3 linked regions of the Homo sapiens genome follow. The protein of the gene in region 2 purifies or fractionates together with the protein of the main gene of each other region. This does not show direct contact. Each region holds a gene or a part of one and is shown on either strand. Other genes may lie near its edges.

The links. Proteins that work in one complex are often made in the same cells at the same time.
Region 1: the proteins of KPNB1 (region 2) and NUSAP1 purify together in Homo sapiens (affinity purification with mass spectrometry; 4 studies listed by BioGRID and IntAct, with this or other methods). This does not show direct contact.
Region 3: the proteins of KPNB1 (region 2) and DLGAP5 purify together in Homo sapiens (affinity purification with mass spectrometry; 4 studies listed by BioGRID and IntAct, with this or other methods). This does not show direct contact.

Annotation. Positions count from the first base shown.
Region 1 is NC_000015.10:41,335,853-41,342,885, forward strand, and holds part of NUSAP1 (nucleolar and spindle-associated protein 1), read left to right. Parts: intron 1-6,533; coding exon 6,534-6,602; intron 6,603-7,033. UniProt on the Homo sapiens protein: Microtubule-associated protein with the capacity to bundle and stabilize microtubules. May associate with chromosomes and promote the organization of mitotic spindle microtubules around them.
Region 2 is NC_000017.11:47,680,919-47,686,038, reverse strand, and holds the end of KPNB1 (importin subunit beta-1), read right to left. Parts: intron 3,636-5,120; coding exon 3,635-3,635; 3' UTR 534-3,634; downstream 1-533.
Region 3 is NC_000014.9:55,181,581-55,188,613, forward strand, and holds part of DLGAP5 (disks large-associated protein 5), read right to left. Parts: intron 2,174-7,033; coding exon 1,980-2,173; intron 853-1,979; coding exon 790-852; intron 1-789. UniProt on the Homo sapiens protein: Potential cell cycle regulator that may play a role in carcinogenesis of cancer cells. Mitotic phosphoprotein regulated by the ubiquitin-proteasome pathway.

The DNA of each region.
Region 1 (7,033 bases), on a different chromosome or scaffold from region 2:
TAAATATACTATATTTTTATGTATACTAGTATATTTGTACTAGTAAAATTTATTTAAATTGTAATGTTTTATTTTAATCAAATCTTGATAATTTTACTAGTATGATATTATTAAAAATAAATTTATGGCCGGGCATGGTGGCTTGCACCTGTAATCCCAGCATTTGGGAGGCCAAGGCAGGTGTCTCACCTGAGGTCAGGAGTTTGAGACCAGACTGGCCAGCATGGCAAAACCCCATCTATACTAAAAATACAAAATTTAGCCAGGCGTGGCAGGGGGCACCTGTAATCCCAGCTACTCGGGAGGCTGAGGCAGGAGAGGAGAATTGCTTGAACCCAGGGAGGCAGACGCTGCAGTGAGCCAAGATCACACCATTGCACTCCAGCCTGGGCAACAAGAGCGAAACTCCGTCTAAAAATAATAATAATAATAATAATAATAATAAATATATAGGAGATAATATTCCCTCTTTTGAGAGACTTCTCTTAATGGTATAGCAATTTGAAGGAGCCAGTTATTAATGTTAGTGGGGCGACTGGTCCTGTTGTCACTCATGCCCTCACTTCCTTTCTTGCGAGCTTAAATTACAAACACTGGCACTATTTCCACTTCCTTGCACCTCCCTATACTCACCTGGCAAAACCCAAGCCTGATTAAACCCAGCTATGTGCTTAATCTTTGCCTATACCTCTGCAGCTAACTCTAGTTGGAGAAAACACCTAACTTTGTTGAGCGAACTTATTTTAAATATGCAACGCTAAACCTTAATATGGGCATTTGATCCTCCTCCTTTTGGTTTTTTTTTTTTTTTTTTTTTGAGATAAGGTCTCGCTCTGTTGCCTAGGCTGCAGTGGCACAATCAGGCCTCACTGCAGCCTCAACCTCTCAGGTTCAAGACATCCTCCCACCTCAGCCTCCTAAGTAGCTGGGATTACAGGCACGTGCCACCACACCTGGCCCATTTTCTTCTTAGTCATGAACTTTCCTACTTTTGAGGATAATTACTTTTTATCATCTTGACTCAACTTGGTTCCCTTCCCTCCCTTGATGACTTTACCTCATAGGTCATGGGAAAATAGATGCAATCAACAGAAAACTGCCTTATCGTTCAACCACCAAATCCCCCCCTTTTTTTCCTTTCCTTTTCTTTTTTTTTTTTTTTTTTTTTTTTTGAGACAGGGTCTTGCTCTGTCAGCCAGCCTGGAGTTCTCTGGAGTGCAGTGGCACAATCAGGACTCACTGCAGCCTCAACCTCCCGGGCTCAAGCAATCCTCCCACCGCAGCCCCCTGAGTAGCTAGGACTACAGGCATGACCACCCTGCCTGGCCAGTGTTTTTTTGAATTTTAGTAGAGATGAGGTCTGACTATGTTGCCCTGTCTGGTCTCCAACTCCTGAGATTCAGCGATCCTCGCGCCTTGGCCTCCCAAAGTGCTGGGATTACAGGCGTGAGACCCTAGGCTTGGCCCCACCACCAAACCTTTTAGCCACCCTGCATCTACATCCACATACTCTGCTTCTTTGCCTGTCTAAGGGCAACCTTTCCATTTATGCTGAAGATCCTGGGCCCTCTTGCTTCCCCTAGGACTACATTCCTACAATTAGAGCCTCTCTCCTCATTAATTTCTCCACTCTGCTAGCTTATTTGCCATAAGGCATGCAATCATGTTTTACTATCACCCATCTTTTAAAAAAATAAAAAAGCCAAAATCCTCTCCTGATCCCATGTCCTCATTCCATCTACTGCCCTATTTCTCTGTTCTTTTCTACTGAAATTGCTTTATTAAGGTCGCCATCTTACAAAGCTTGTGTTCCCTCTCTCCCCTCACCTGTGCCTATCAGTAGCATTTGGCATGATTGAACATTCCCCTCTGCTCCAGGCACTTTCTGTTCTAGGCTTTGATATTTCACGCTGTCCTGCCTTACTAGCACTTCTTTCTAGTCTCCTTGGTTGGTTCTTCATCTGCCAGATCTCTAAATGTGGAGTGCCCCCAGGGCTCTCTTCCTGGTTGTCTTTTCTCTAACTATGCTCTATCCCTCGGTGATCTTATCCACCCCATTTTTTTTTCTTTTCTTTTTTCTTTTTTTTTTTTTTTTTTTGAGTCACAGTCTTGCTCTGTCACCCAGGCTAGAGTGCAGTGGCGCAATCTCGGCTCACTGCAACCTCCACTTCCCAGGTTCAAGCGATTCTCCTGCCTCAGCCACCCGAGTTCCTGGGATTATAGGTGCCTGCCACCATGCCCAGCTAATTTTTTTGTATTTTTAGTAGAGACAGGACTTCACCATGTTGGCCTGGCTGGTTTCAAACTCCTGACCTCAAGTGATCCACCTGCCTTGGCGTCCCAAAGTGCTGGGTTTACAGGCATGAGCCACTGCGTCCGGCCCATTCCCATAAGTTAAAATTTACCCAAAAGCTAATGCCTCCCAAACCCACATCTCCAGTAGGACCTCTCTCTCCCCTGGGATGCTGACTCGTGTATTTAAGTGCATTTTCAACAACACGGTCAGGTCCAAGCATTGACAGTCTCTTCCCCATCTCAGTACATTGTTCAGGCCCAGTTTGGATCACCCTGGATTCCTCTCTTCTTCACCCACAGCCATCCATTCTTGTCAGCACCTCCTCCTAAATAGACCTGAAATCTGACCTCTGGGCACCATCTCCAGCGCTGCAAACCTGTGCCACAGCACTCTCATCTCCTGACCACTGCCTCAGTCTCCCTATTGGGCTTCCTGCCTCAACTCTTACCTCACAATAGTGTTCTCTTGGTAGTTGGAGTGATATTTGAAACTTAGGGAAAAGAAAAAAAAGAGAGAGAGACCAGGCGCCAGGCGCAGTGGCTCATACCTGTAATCCCAGCACTTTGAGAGGCCGTGGTGGGTGGATCACTTGAGGCCAGGAGTTCAAGGCCGGCCTGGCCAGCATGGCAAAACCCCGTCTCTACTAAAAAAAAAAAAAATACAAAAATTAGCCAGGCGTGGTGGCATGTGCCTATAATCCCAACTACTCGGGAGGATGAGGCACGAAAATCCCTTCAACCTGAGAGGTGGAGGCTGCAGTGAGCCAAGATCACGGCACTGCACTCCACCCTGGGCGACAGAGCGAGACTCTGTCTCCAAAAAAAAAAATAAACTTAGAACGTGTCTTTCTGCTCAGTGCCCTCCAATGACTTCCCTCACATCTAAAATAAAATCTAAACTCTTTCCAGTGTAATGAGAGAAACTTAGTTTGACCCTGATTTGGAGGGAAATTTTTTTAAAAAGAAAATAGCTAAAATTGGAGAGAAGGAAATTTCATTATGGGCCACATATTAGGTGATATTAGGAAATTATTGCTTTTCCTGAGTACACTAATGCATTAGAGGATCATGTGGGGAAATCTCTTATTTTTAGGAGATGTGGCTGATATATTTAGTGGTAAAGAATCATGATGTCTGGAACTTATTTTCAAATTCTTTCACAAGAATTATATATTAATATAGAGAAACCAAATATGAGACAATGCAAATGACTATTGAATCTTGGTGGGAAATATGAGTGTTTATTACATTACTTCGACTTTTCTTTTTTTTTTTTTTTTGAGACGGAGTTTCGCTGTTGTTGCCCAGGCTAGAATGCAACGGCATGATCTCAGCTCACTGCAACCTCCACCTCCTGGATTCAAGCAATTCTCTTGCCTCAGCCTCCCAAGTAGCTGGGATTACAGGCATGTGCCACCATGCCCAGCTAATTTTGTATTTTTAGTAGAGACAGGGTTTCTCCATATTGTTCAGGCTGGTCTGGAACTCCTGAACTCAGGTGATCTGACTGCCTCAGGCCTCCCAAAGTGCTGGGATTACAGGCGTGAGCCACCACACCCAGCCTACTTTGACTTTTCTATAGGCCTGACTTTTTTTCTAATAACAATTTAGGGGAAGAAATTAATTTTTTTTCTATTTTTTTATTTTTTTTGAGACAGACTTTCGCTCTTGTCACCCAGGCTGGAGTGCAGTGGTGCGATTCCGGCTCACTGCAACCTCCACCTCCCAGGTTCAAGTGATTCTCCCGCCTCAGCCTCCTGAGTAGCTCAGACTACAGGTGCCCACCACCACGCCCAGCTATTTTTTGCAGACATGGGGTTTCACCCTGTTGGCCAGGCTGGTCTTGAACTCCTAACTTTGGGTGATCTTCCTGCCTCGGCCTCCCAAAGTGCTAGGATTACAGGCATTAGTCACTGTACCTGGCTGAAATTCATAATTTTTGCTGTGGCCTTTACCTCTCTACTTGACCCAGCCTCTGGTCACATCTCTGATCTCCCTGCCCTCCATATACCTCAGTGTTCACCATACTTCTACCATAAGGGCAGTTTCTGTCTTTCAACTCATGAGTCCACCTCAGGGCTCCTGTTCTTGGCGCTCGCTCTGCTCGGAGTGCTCTTCACCTGCTGCCTCTTTCCTCATTCACATCTCGGGAGGCCTTTCCCAGCCATCCTAATTCAGGTAGCATCCCCACCCCACCCCAGTTGCCCAGTTTTATTTTTGCATCATAATACCTGACGTCATATCATTCATTTCTAGCTTTCTTGGGTAACTGTTTCACCTCTGCTAGAAGATCCTGGAGGGCAATCACCTTGTCTGTTTAATTAATCACTCTCTAGTGTCTGGAACAGTGCCCAGCACAATAAATGCTTGTTGAAGGAATGCATGAATATATGCTGATAACTAACATCTGCACCTTCAGCACAACTCTTGAACACCACCTCATATCATTCAACCTCCTCACTGGGTTCTGCCACAGGTGCCTCACTTCATGCATTTTTGTATGTTTGGTGAGATTTTGAAGGTATATTAAGAGAGTATTAGAAAAATCAAGAATGCCTGAATTCTGCCCTGCCAATCATCCCCTTCCCAGAGAAAACCTCAAGGGTGGTTCAAGGAACAAGTAGAAAATAAGGTACCACTTTATTACTAGCTGAAATAGTGCCTGATATCTTGATGCAGAGCATTCTGGTAAAGTGGATTGGAGACTGTGGCTTAGGCTTGCACCACAAGCAAAAGCTTGAGCACAAACCAAATTTCAGGATCTCTGCTATTCTCTACTGGACACATGGCCCATGATAAAAGGCATGAGAAGAATAGAGCCAAGCCTGGTGGCTGGGCCCACCTTGAGAAGGATGGCTGTGGCCCTCAACTGCATGGCTGGGTGGAAGAGGAAGAAAAAAAGAACCCAACCAAAAAACTTGACTTTTGTTTTTTAAACGGAGTCTTGCTCTATCGCCCAGACTAGAGTGCAGTGGCATCATCTCCTCGGCTCACTGCAACCTTCGCCTCCTGGGTTCAAGCAATTCTTCTGCCTCAGCCTCCCAAGTAGCTGGGACTACAGGCACACACCACCATGCCCGGCTAATTTTTGTTTTTTTATTAGAGACGGGGTTTCACCATGTTGGCCAGGCTGGTCTAAAACCCCTGACCTCGTGATCCACCTGCCTCGGCCTCCCAAAGTGCTGGAATTACAGGCATGAGCCACCCCGCTCAACCAAACTTGACTTTTAAAGCACAGGAAAATGTAACCAATCAAATTAACATTGTTCTTTCAGGAAAGAACAAGAAGGGAGGTTTTCCTAGGCTGGGAAGAGAAGCTCAGTGTTCCCTTCCCCCGGCAGAGACCTACAACCATCCCCCTAAGACCCCGTCACCTTTTGCATTCCTCATCTTAGGGACCGTACCACACTTCACCAGCTGTCCAAGCCAGAAACGTTGGCATAACAAAGTTTCCCTCTTCCTCAACTCTCATGTTCACACTGATTTCACTTCCTAAGAAGGTTTTGACTTCATCCATACTGCCTTAGCCCCGCTCCAGTTCAGGCCACAGCATTTCTGGCTCATCCCCATCAAATGCATCTTGCACATTGTGCAGGTAGACTACTCATTCTGAGTAATGCAAAATTGGTCACCCACTGCCTTGCTGCAAACTCTTCAGAGACTGCCCTTTTCTCTGAGAGTAAAGTTCATACTCTTTAAAGGCTTACAAGGCCTGGTAACATCACGGCCCTGCTCACTTTCCCAACATTGTCTCTTACTATCTCCTACAAACAGGTCCATGTTCCAGCCACACTGAACTTAAGTTCTTCAAACTCCACCCTCATTGTTGCCTTGCTGTGCCATTCCTCTACCTCTTTCTCTACCTTCTCTTCATCCTTCAGATCTCAGCAATTAGAGACATCACATCTTTATCTGAGAACTGCCCTGTGCAGATACTTGCTGAAGTCTAACCTAGCAGTCCCAACTTTGATGGCCATGCCTACCTATGTTCTCATGACAGCCTGAGCCTCCTAGCGTGGGCATTTACCCCACTGTATTGCAATTGCCTCTTTCCTTGTCTAACTTTCCCACTCAGATGTGAAATTCCTTAGAGCAGAGACCCATTCTTTCTAAGTAATGGTTCTAGTCCTATGGTCTGACCAGAGTACATTTAATGAATACAAGAACAGCAAAAAATATTCAACGTATCTTCCTTGTTTATTTGACTTTTGGCTCTAATAATAAGGTCTCTCTTGCAGGCAACCAAGTTGTTAAAAGCCTTGAAAGGCTACATTAAACATGAGGCAAGAAAAGGAAATGAGAATCAGGTGAGTAATGTTTTTCATGTTTACCTGTTAGCTAGCAAAATAATCATATTTGGTTAATGGGCAATTAACACACAACTAGTGATGATTTAAGACATGCTGTTGGCCAGGTGTTGTGGCTCACGCCTATACTCCTAGCACTTTGGTAGGCAGTGGCAGGCGGATCACTTGAGTCCAGGAGTTCGAGACCAGCCTGGCCAACATGGTGAAACCCCGTCTCTACTAAAAATACAAAAATTAGCCAGATGTGGTGGCGGGAGCCTGTAATCCCAGCTACTCAGGAGGCTGAGACAGGGAGAATTGCTTGAACCCGGGAGGTGGAGGTTGCAGTGAGCCAGGATCGCGCCACTGTACTCCAGCCTGGGTGACAGAGCAAGACTCCGTTCAAAAAACAAAAAAAAAGATATGCTGTTTATTAAAAAAGAGATCATTAT
Region 2 (5,120 bases):
ACAATGATTCACTGAGAACATTTCTCCACTGAAGGTGAGATTTGAGAAAAGAATGCAATTAGTTCATCAAATGGCAGAGAAGGAGCAACTGCTCCCACAAGAAACCCCATTACCGTATACCTGGTCCCAATACAAACACTCAGAAACACAGTGCAAGCCTGCAGTTCCACCTGGCCTCCAAGGTGCCAGCTTGGCCCACCTGAAGTGAAAAATGGTAAACACTGAGATTTTATGTTTTAATTTGCAGAACAACCTTAGTCAGTATTCCTGTTTTACTGATGAGGAATGCTTCAAACTCTCCAAACACGAAACATCCTCCATGCATACTTTTTCCTTACCTCATTTGTAGGACACTGTTTCATCTATATCACATTACACTATGTAATATCCATTTCAAGATGTGTGTCCCTCCTTTTCCCCACACACATACATACACAAACACCTCTCACCACACATTCTGACTTTCAAACCATTTCACCTCCATGGAGGTGACACCATTTGGGACAAAAAAAAAAAAAAAAAGCAGCAAGATGTTGAAAATAAAAATAAAGCGGACTTTATTTAGAAGATAAAGGTGGTGGTTATCGGTTTTGGTTAATCGAGTTGGGCTCAAGTGTTTTACAGGTCTTAAATGCCATCACAGACTGGCATGCCAAGGGCATTCTGAATGCCAATTACAGATTGAAGTTGTTTCAAAAACCAAGATGCTATCAAAAGCTGATGAGTTTGGATTTTTCTTAAAGTTGGACTAACACACTTCTTAAATATTTGTAAGAGTAAATAGATTGCTTGGTTCTGAAAGTTAAAACACTACACTGAGCAATTCCCCTTCTCCACAAGTCCCTAAGGCAATATTACAGTTGCCTCTGACAGCAAGTCCAACATTTCAACAAAGGGGGGGTGAGGAGAACTGGGAAAAATGAAAAGCAAAATTAATAAATGTAATTGATACAGGCAGCTGCCACTTGTGGCAAACCAAAGCCTAGTCCGATGCCCATTATCTTCACATTTGCACTGACATCTTCCCAAGCAGACGGTAACTACATTCTTGAAGGAATGTGCCAAGACTAGGGTGGGGAAGGCCCAGACAGTGAGTGAACAGAATGCATTTTGCACCCAGTTGCCTTAGGTGGTATAACTGATATAAGGACAAATACCCAGACTATGGAAAACCCACTGGCAAAAGGTTAACTAGAAAAGAGGAGAATTAAATGCATAACCAGTGCAGAGTAACTGCAAGGCACCAAGACCACATCCAACCAGCCCATTTTCCTCCTCTCCACCACTGAATGGATCTGGGAGAAAGCATTAGTAACAGCACTCATCAACTGCTTCCCTGGAACAAAACATGACAAAACACACGGAAGGTTTTTTCATTATGGTTCTCGGTGTACTTTATTCTCCTGCTGTCTAGCTAAGCAGCCCACACAGGACAGAAATGGGTAGCACTGAGGAATGATCAGATTTTTTTTCTATCCCCAATATTTCTGCCCCCTCCCTAAGCCCTGACCCAACCCTATCTTAATAATCACGAATGGTTAGTACATCATTCTGTCTCTCAAAGAACAACTGAAATGGAAACAAGGCATTAGAGGACCAGGCCTCTTCTTAATAGGGCTTAGGAGCTGGTATGAGCTCTTTATTCACAATGGAGCGTCTCTCCTTCAAATACCTGGATTTTTTTTTTTTTGTACACTGGTTCATAGATCGGCACTTGACTTTGAACCTGGCACCAAAAGGCACAATATCTGATACCCTGTACAAGAGCTATTAGAGATGCTGCCATATGGATGGGCAAAACTGAGCCAATCCCACTTAGGAATGGAAGGCTTGGACATGGAAGGGAGGATATAAACGAGGAGTTGGAGAAAAACGCAAGCCCAGTTTTTGCTAGAGTGGAAATGAAAGTGGGAATGAGGGTCTTGTTTTTAGTCCTCTAAGGACCAGGAAGCAATTTTAAAACTTCCTTGGTTTTTCTGAAAGCAGCATATTCAAAATGCCAGCAAAAACTCCTAACAACTGCAAAACCAAAAGAGGATCAAAGCTCACCAACATCCCTTCTTATTGCTGAAAGGCTCTAAAATTCAGGATGCCCTGTTCCCTTGTAAAAGGGAAAATAATTAAGTCTGATTTATGGTAATCATACCACATCACACTTCTAAAAAAATATTCAAGTGTGTGACCAGGGGACGTTTGACACCATTTTATTAACCTTCAACTTCAGTGGAAAAATAAAACCTTTTCCAAGTGCCATTTTCATCACAAGACTTCTAGTTAGTGTGTGTGTGTATTCACACAACACACACTTTTTTTTGTTTTTGTTTTGTTGGTTGCTTTTGAAGTGCAGCAAGAGACCAATACCGCATTGTAGTCAATCAAATAAAAGAACAGAAGGCCAAGCAGTTTCCAAATGGTTATTTTATCAGATTGTTTGAACATTTAATTTATCCTGTTTGCAATCCAAAATAGTTACCTGAAGTTTGCTGTTTTGTGTGTATGTGTTTACTTTTATTGTATATTTATTTTTCTAAACTCTTTGGCACAATTTTCTGGGGGCGTTCAGACTGCCACAATACAAGTCAGGAGAGGGCGTTTTCTTTGTGCTGCCAATTCTGATCATTTAAATTTTGGTTTGTTTGGGTTGTGATTTTTTTGTTTTTGAAGTCTGCGTTATTTGTAACAATTGTACTTATATTTTTCTATATCCTCTAACGCCAGAGTTTTCTTTTTCTCCCCCCTCCCCCCCACTTCTACATTCACAGTTGAACCATATTATTAGGAAAGGCGCCTTGATGAAAAGATCAGGATAGGAGCTCTGACCATTCGTCAGTGTTTTCCCTAGAGTAAAAAAAACAAAAAACAAAACCAAAAAAAAAAAACAAAACAAAACCTAAAGAGCGTCTTTCCTCTGTGTGTGTGTTTTTTTTTTTTTTTTTTTTTTTTTTTTTACATCTCTTGTGCTGCATCAGTAAACAAAACTTCGGTTAGTTTTATGAAATGCAACATCTAACCCCTTGTTTTCTGGGAAAAAGAAACTGCAATGACTTGAAGTTGAGAATGTGGATACCGCCTCACTCACACACACTCATTCTCAGACTGTAAAAAATCCCTGACCCTCCTTCTAGCTGGCAAGCATACAGTACCATGTGGCAAAGGTACAGCGAAGGTGGGCTTGAGACCCAGGCTCCATCTTTCTCCTCAGTAGCAAAGGCCAGGCTGCCTTTTACAACAAAGCACCACAGCTGAACCCAGTCCCTCCTCCTCCCCCAAACCAGGCATTCCACTCGGCACTGGCCAAAAGACAGAAAAGCTACTTCTAGCCTCTCCTGGGAAGAGATAACTTTCTTTCTTTTTTTTTAAATAAGTAACTCCATTGTTTTTCTCTTTTCCAAGATGGCCGATGTTATGGTTTTCTACGAAGTCAGTGCTTACTTAGCTCACTAACAGCGCTGCTGTTGGCGGCTGCGGCTGCTGCTGTGGCAGGATTTTCAATGTGGTGTGTTTTCAAGCCTCACTCACTCATCCTCTCATTCCCAAACATTCAGCATCCGTGCACACTCCTCACTTCCAGGTTTTTCAAAAGATGGGAGATTTCCAGTGGGGGTCCTCAGGTTATCATCCCAATGGTAACAGATCTGAAAACAGATGGAAAAAAAGGTCAATCTTTGAGATCACATATACCCAACAGAGCCAATAATGCTGACTCCTACAATTACATGCTCCTAGGCCTGAATGGAATTTGTCAACATTTCAAGGATTGACACTCTTTCTTCTTGTCCTATGTGCCATTGACCTGCTCTTATTAACACCTACATCAGAGGGTGCGAGGGAAACTCAAAGAGCCAATTTTACTGAGATCTGTGGAGTAAGATAACTAATTAAGAGTGAAAGAAATTAAAACTGTATTTCAGTCTGGGTGCAGTGGCTCAAGCCTTTAATCTCAGCACTTTGGGAGGCCAAGGAGGGAGAACTTCTTGAGGTCAGGAGTTCAAACCCAGCCTGGGCAACAGGAGATCTTGTCTCTAAAAATAAAAAAAAATTAGCCAGTCATGGAGGTGCTTGCCTGCAGTCCCAACCACCTGGGAGGCTGAGGCAGGAGGGCCACTTAAGCCCAGGAGCTGGAGGCTTCTATGAGGTGTGATTGTACCACTGCACTCCAGCCTGGGTGACAGAGGAGACTCTGTCTCCAAACAAACAAGATTGCATTTCAAAGTAGGAGCCAAGGCCTGGTGTGGTGGTGCACACCTGGGAGACCGACAAAGGTGGATCACCTGAGGTCAGGACCAGTCTGGCCAACATGGTGAAAACCCATCTCTACTAAAAATACAAAAAAAAAAAAAAAAAAAAAAAAACCTATAATTCCAGCAATTTAGGAGGCTGAGGTGGGTGGATCACCTAAAATCAGGAGTTCAAGACCAGCCTGGCAAACATGGTGAAACCCCATCTTTACTAAAAATACAAAAACTGGGCCAGGCATGGTAGCTTACGCCTGTAATCCCAGTACTTTGGGAGGCCGAGGTGGGTGGATCACGAGGTCAGGAGGTCAAGACCAGCCTGGCCAAGATGGTGAAATCCTGTTTCTACTAAAAATACAAAAAAATTAGCCAGGTGTGGTGGTGGTAGGGCACCTGTAATCCTAGCTACTCAGGAGGCTGAGGCAGAGAACTGCTTGAACCCGGGAGGCAGAGGTTGCAATAAGCTGAGATCGCACCACTGCACTCCAGCCTGGGCGACAGAGCGAGACTGTCTCCAAAAGAAAAAAAAAAAAAAAAAGAAGAAGAAAAGAAAAGAAAAAAAGAAAATTAGTCGGGTGTGGTGGCATGTGACTGTAATCCCAGCTACTCGGGAGGCTGAGACAGGAGAATTGCTCAAACCCAGGAGGCAGCAGTTGCAGTGAACCGAGATTGTGCCATTGCACTCCAGCCTGGGCGACAGTGAGACTCTGTCTCAAAAAGAAAACACACACACACACACACACACACAAAAAAACATTTGACTTTGGAAATCTTCTCTAGAGCTAGGCAACGTCTAAAAGCACTGCTGTAAAGAAAGAATAGGGCATGAGGAAAGGAATAGAAAACAGAAGAGAATTAGGGGGAAATGGCATTACTGATGATTTT
Region 3 (7,033 bases), on a different chromosome or scaffold from region 2:
TCCTAGACATACTTTCACTTCAAGACCTTTTAATTTTGCCTAGAAAATACTTCTCCTGGATAAAAAGCGCTTTCCCATGGTTCTCTTCTCCACTTCCATAATGACTTCACTCAAAAGGCTTTCATCTCAGGGAGGCCTTCCTTAACTGCCCAATCAAAATTCTACCCCATACCTATTTCTAGTACACCCCATCTCCCCTTTTTAAAATCTCTTCCATAATACTTATCATCTTCTGGCATATTATGTATTTTTTTAAATGCCTTACATGTAAGTTCCACAAAGAGAATTTAGTTTATTATATCCAAAAGCCTACAACACCAGGAACATCATAGCAATGCAAAATATATATGCATACGTGGAACTTAGCTTCCTCACCTGATAAAGAGGCATATTATTTCCCTTCTTGCCCACTTCACTTTGTTTTAGTAACCCTCCTGATATCTCTATTACAGTATTTTGAAGACCCGTAAGTTTATAACACCTACCCTGTGTGCTTTCCTCCCCATATGCATTTCATGCAGGTAACTTGGAATGCATAATAGGAGCCCACTAAACAAAACAAGAGTGTGACACAAAGACAGTTTGCCATGGATCTCATACGGAATGTTGGAGCAAATATTTTAAGTGAAATTGCTCTACATCACCATACTAAAAACAGTGACTTTGGTACCTGTTAACTCTAGTAAATTAATCATTATGTTTGAATCTGATACTAGATTTAAAATGAATTTACTTACTAAAAAAGTGCAATTTATCATTTTAGTAACAATTATCTACTATCAACTATACCTTAGTCTGCTCCATTTGGTCTTTGGCCTTTGACCTTGTAATCCGTACAGAAGATGGAATAGCCTTAGAACAGTCAAAAGAAGATGAACTTAAAATATGAACTGGTAAAGGTTTACTTCCATATCTTATTACAAAATAAAGTTCCCATTTTAAAGTTAAATTTTATCCTTAATCTCTTATAGCAAAAAGATACTTAAATTCCTTTTTCTGGTTCTAGCTTGATTTAAATTAAGTTAGTAACTTCAAAAATTACTCACATTTCTCAGTGAGAAAGAAATTTCAAACCGTATTTTCCAGGTATTGGAATCATCATTAATATGAGCTTCTATCCTCTCTTAGTTCTCCTGCCTCTCTGACCAGTCCTCAGCCTGGTACCTGGCTTCTGCCTACCTAAAAGTGCTCTCTAGAGCCCACTTTTTCATAATTTTATATATCCTTATTGGAATGGTCTCATTTAGTCCTACAGCTTAAACACTCATCCATATTCCCAATATTATATCCTAAATCGACATCTTAGCACCAATTTCCATCCTTCTTTCCAAATTTTTACTAATATCTAGGTGGCCCACACAAGTTTAAGATTTTTAAAAAGGTTATTAACATGCACCCACTTAAGCTTGTTCCTTATCTTCCTTATCTCTTTTAGCAGCAGAGCTTCTCTCTGCTTTTTCAATTTCCTTTACCCCTCACCATCTACTTGGCCACCAGTCCTGTCAAATGCCTTTATTTAGATGTCTTACACCTATTTTTTCCTTTTAAAACCCACTGCCCCTTTCCATCTATTCTATTACAATAGTCTCACAATTGGTCTCCCTATCTATAAATGCTTCCCTTTCCAGACTAAAATCTTTAGGGCTATGGTATTTTCCTGAATTATTAATTTGACAACGGCACTACCCTTATTTATAAACTTCTCCTGATTCTGCAAAACCTACAGGATAAACACCAAATCCTTTGCATAACATTGTTCAGCCTGATTCTACCAATTTTCCTAGTTTTATCCTATCTCAACTTACCTACAGCTATCTTAAGAGACCTGATTTTCATTCTTCTGAGCTACTATTATGTCATTCCCACCTTCTACCAACCAGTTAATAATGAGACTAAGGGAAAGGGGTTAGTCACTTAATGTCTTGAAGAAAATACCAAATAAAAGAAACTATTCCTTTATATTAAGACACTAAATTTACCTTTTTTGGCTCAGCTTTCACAGCATTCTGGTTTGATAAAAGAAAACAAGGCATATCAGGTCTATAACGACCCACTTTAAATATTCCTCGTTTAGCTTTCTCTCTCTGCTCTTTCAATTTTTGAAGTTGCTTTTCTTCTTTGTATTTTTGGAGCATCTGTTTTCGTTGATCACCTAGAATAGTTTTCATTGCCCCTAGGCAGAAAAAAAACCAAAACCACACAGTATATAAAACATTTCAGATGAAAAGTTATGCAAATGTATAAACAATTATTTTTGTGTCATTTCAACTGCTGCTAAAAAATGCTTTCAGGCCAGGCACGGTGGCTCACGCCTGTAATCCCAGCACTTTGGGAGGCTGAGGAGGGCGGATCATCTGAGGTCAGGAGTTTGAGACCAGCCTGGCCAACGTGGTGAAATCCCATCTCTACTAAAAATTCAAAAATTAGCTGGGTGTGGTGGCGGTCACCTGTAATCCCAGCTATTCGGGAGGTTGAGGTAGGAGAATTGCTTGAACCCAGGAGATGGAGGTTGCAGTGAGCCAAGATTGCGCCCCTGCACTCCAGCCTAAGCAACAGAGCAAGACTCCGTCTCAAGAAAAAAAAAAAGGCTTTCAATAAGCCAGGCACAGTAACACACCTGTAGTCCCATCTACTGGGAAGGCTGAGGTGGAAGGATCATTTGAGCCCAGGAGTTCAAGTTCAGCTTGAGTAACAAAGCAAGACCTCTCCGCACAAAGGGAAATGCTTTTAATATTTCTTGTTAATTCTTTAGCACTCTAACCACAAGTTATTTCAACCCCTAGTCTTTTAAAATTTGTATTCATTTTGCCTTCATGTGTTCAAATATTAACTGCTTGCTATGTAATAGGCATTTATTACTTCACTTTTAAATTAATTAACTTGTATGATAGCCAGCATCCAAGCTGCCCTCTACTGATCCTCACTTCCTGGTAGTCTTGCCCTGTGTCATCCCCTCACACTGAATAGGGCTGACTTGTGTGACCAAGAGAGTATTACAGGAATAATGGAATATGACTTCTAAAACTAGGGTAGTGTTTGCCTTGCTCTCTCTTGAAGCGTCGCTTGCTCTGGGAGAAGCCAGGTGCCATGTGGGGCCTTAAGAAGACTCAAGCAGTCCTATGGAGATGTCCACATGACAAAGAACTACAGCCTCCTTCCAAAAGCCAGCATCAACTTGCTGTTCATGTGAGTCAGTCATCTTGGAGGCAGATCCTCCAGTCTCAGTTAAGGCTTCAGATATATCTCTGGATGACATCTTGGCTGCTATCTTCAGAATCACCCAGCTCAGCCATACCCAAGTTCCTGACCCACAAAAATTGTATGAAATAATCAATATTTATTGTTTTAAGCTGCTAAGTTTTGGGATAACTAATACAATTATAGGTGCTATTTATTATAATAGATGTACTCTATTTCTTCTCACCTACTCAAGGACATTCTTCCAGCAACTTATCCTCTTACTCATCTATTTTTTCCTCTACTGAATTGTTGCCATTATGAAGTTACAAGCATGCGGTAATTTCTCCCAACCTACATCCTCATCTAGCACTTATTTTTCTAGTCCCATTTAAGGCAAAATTCTTCAAGAGAGTTACCTGTATCTCTACTATCAACACTTTTATTTATTTATTTATTTGAGGCAGAGTCTCGCACTGTCGCCTTGGCTGGAATGCAGCGGCGTGATCTCGGCTCAATGCATCCTCGGCCTCCCGGGTTCAAGCGATTCTACTGCCTCAGCCTCCCGAGTAGCTGGGATTACAGGCGCCCACCACCATGCCCAGCTAATTTTTTGCATTTTTAGTAGAGACGGAGTTTCACCATTTTGGCCAGGGTGGTCTCGAACTCCTGACCTCATGATTCACCCACCTCGGCCTCCCAAAGTGCTGGGAGTACAGGTGTGAGCCACCACGCCTGGCCTTTTTTGAGACAGAGTCTCACTCTGTCGCCCAGGTTGGAGTGCAGTGGCGCAATCTTGGCTCACTGCAACCTCCACCTCCTGAGTTCAAGCAATTCTGCCTCAGCCTCCCTAGTAGCTAGGATTACAGGCATGCGCCACTGCGCCTGGCTAATTTTTGTATTTTGAGTAGAGATGGGGTTTCACCATGTTGGACAGGCTGGTCTTGAACTCCTGACCTCAGGTGATCCACCCACCTTGGCATCCCAAAGTGCTGGAATTACAGGTGTGAGCCACCAAGCCCAGCCTATTTCCAACACTCTTTACATTCCCTCTCTTTTCAAAATTATGAAAAACTTCTAATATACACACAATTATAATGAACCCCATATACCTATTACCAAGATTCAATAATTATGAACATTTTGCTGCAGTTGTTTAAAACAAATTATGCTTAGAAGATTTCATCTCTAAATACTTTAGTATATACTTCTAAAAAATAAAGACATTTCTGGAAGGGTGCGATAGCTCACGCCTGTACTCCTAGCACTTTGGGAGACTGAGGTGGGCGGTTCATCTGAGGTTGGGAGTTTGAGACCAGCCTGACCAACATGGAGAAACCCTGTCTCTACTAAAAATACAAAATTAGCCAGGCGTGGTGGTGCATGCCTGTAATCCCAGCTACTCAGGAAGGCTGAGGCAGGAGAATCACTTGAACCCGGGAGGCAGAGGTTGCGGTGAGCCGAGATCGTGCCATTGCACTCCAGCCTGGGCAAGAAGAGCAAAACTCCGTCTCAAAAAATAAAAATAAAATAAAATAAAGACATTTCCTTTCATAGCCACGATATCATCATCACACTTAACAAAATCAGCAGTAATTCCTTGTTATCTATTACAGGGTCCAGATTTAAACGTCTCTATTTGTTTCAAAGAGGTCTTTTAAACCATCTGTTTACTTAAATCAAGAACCAAGTAAGAGCAACACGTTTTATTTGAATGTCTTTTTAAATCTCTTCATCTAAAACAGATCCTCCTCCCCACTCTTCTTTTCATGCCATTGTCTTACTGACAAAAGGTAGTCAGTTTTCCTATTGAATGTCTTTGCAAGCTGTATTTGTTTATTTACTCATTCCTCCAGGCTCCATGTTTTCTACAGACTACAAATTATATCTAAGGGTTTGATTATACTCATCCATTCCAATCTTTCACTCCCTGAACCTCACTCCACCAAAACTATTCAAGATCACCAGTGACCTCCACAGTGGTGAAGTCCAAATTCTCACCTCTATTATACTTGATCTAACAAGCAGTACTGACTAACATAGTTAATCAGTCTCTCCTCGATATGCACTTTTCTACTCGGTTTCTAGGATAGCACGTTCTTCTGGTTATCCTCTTACATTACTTTGCATTGTTCCTTGGTTCTTTACTAGTTTTCCCTTGTCTTTTTTTTGAGACGGAGTCTCACTTTGTTGCCCAGGCTGGAGTGCAGTGGTGTGATTGGCTCACTGCAACCTCCACCTCCTGGGTTCAGGTGATTCTCCTGCCTCAGCCGCCCAAGTAGCTGGGACTACAGGCACGCGCCACACCCAGCTGATTTTTGTATTTTTAGTAGAGATGGGGTTTCACCATGTTGGCCAGAATGGTCTTGATCTCTTGACCTCGTGATCCACTCACCTTAGCCTGGGGTACTGGGATTATAGGTATGAGCCACCGCATCTGGCCCCTTGTCTTTTAATACTTTAGTATCAACTAAGTTATTGCAGTAGTCTACTTACTGCTCTCCCTGATGTCATACATACCACCCTATAATCTATTCTCAACACAGCAGCCAAAGTGATCCTTTTTTTTTTTTTTTTTTGAGATGGAGTCTCGCTCTGTTGCCCAGGCTGGAGTACAATAGCGTGATCTCAGCTAACTGCAACGTCCACCTCCTGGGTTCAAGCGATTCTCCTGCCTCGGCCTCCTGAGTAGGTGGGATTACAGGTGTGTGTCACCACACCCAGCTAATTTTTTTATTTTTAGTAGAGATGGGGTTTCACCATGTTGGTCAGGCTGGTTTCGAACTCTTGACCTCGCCATCCACCCGCCTTGGCCTCCCAAAGTGCTGGGATTACAGGCATGAGCCACTGTGCCCGACCTGATCCTTTTCTTTTTTTTTTTTTTAGGAGACAGGATCTCCATGTGTGGCCGAGGCCAGAGTGCAGTGACTTTTCACAGGCACCATTGTAGCACACTGAAGCTTCAAACTCCTGAGCTCAAGATTTCCTGCCTCAGCCTCTGGAGTAGCTAGGGCTACAGGCCTGACTCCAAAGCGATCCTTTTAAAACATGAATCAGATTACATAAACACCCATTAATGGCCTCTCATTTCAGAGTAAAAGCCAATGTCCTTATAATGATGGTCCTTAGGATTCTATGTAATCTATCTCCCTTGCTCATTCTTTTCTACCCAGTTACCTACTTGCATTCACTAAAACATATCAGGCACACTCCTACCTCTAAGCCTTTGCAAACGGGAAATAAAGGATATTTTAATAGCATACTGAGATAGTTAGACTTTAATTTGAAAGATTTTTGGTTAAGAAATGGAGCATTTGAGAGGACAAGATGAGAAAGGAACCACCCTTTCTCAGATAAAAAATGTTTGGTTCTTTCTGCCATTCCCTATTTATCCTAGCATTATTTCAATGCCATCTAGCTCCTAACGCCTGCTATATGAACACAACAAATAGGAGTAGGGTGACTCCTGACTAAACACAAGTCATTTCTCAGTTTGCTTTCTCTTTTCTGTAGCATCCTTTGCCTTCTAAGATGCTCTATTTTCATCTTTTTCTGAGATTATTCCTTTCTTCTTTAGTTGGTTCTTTCCATCCTAATGGTCCCAATCCTTCTGGGCAAACTGCAAGGATGAATTCTTTGCTCTTTTCTTACTAATGTTTCCATTGACAAAGTACTCTCATTTCATGGATTCTTTAATTATTCTATTTTTACATTTCTTATCAATTTATCTTGTCAACACTTATCCTACCCAAGCTCCGTAAGAACTTTAGGATTTCTATGAAGCAATATAGATAATAAAGTGTTATAATACTCCACAGGTAAAGGCTTTTGCCTTAAAGACAGTAGTTAGTTGTAG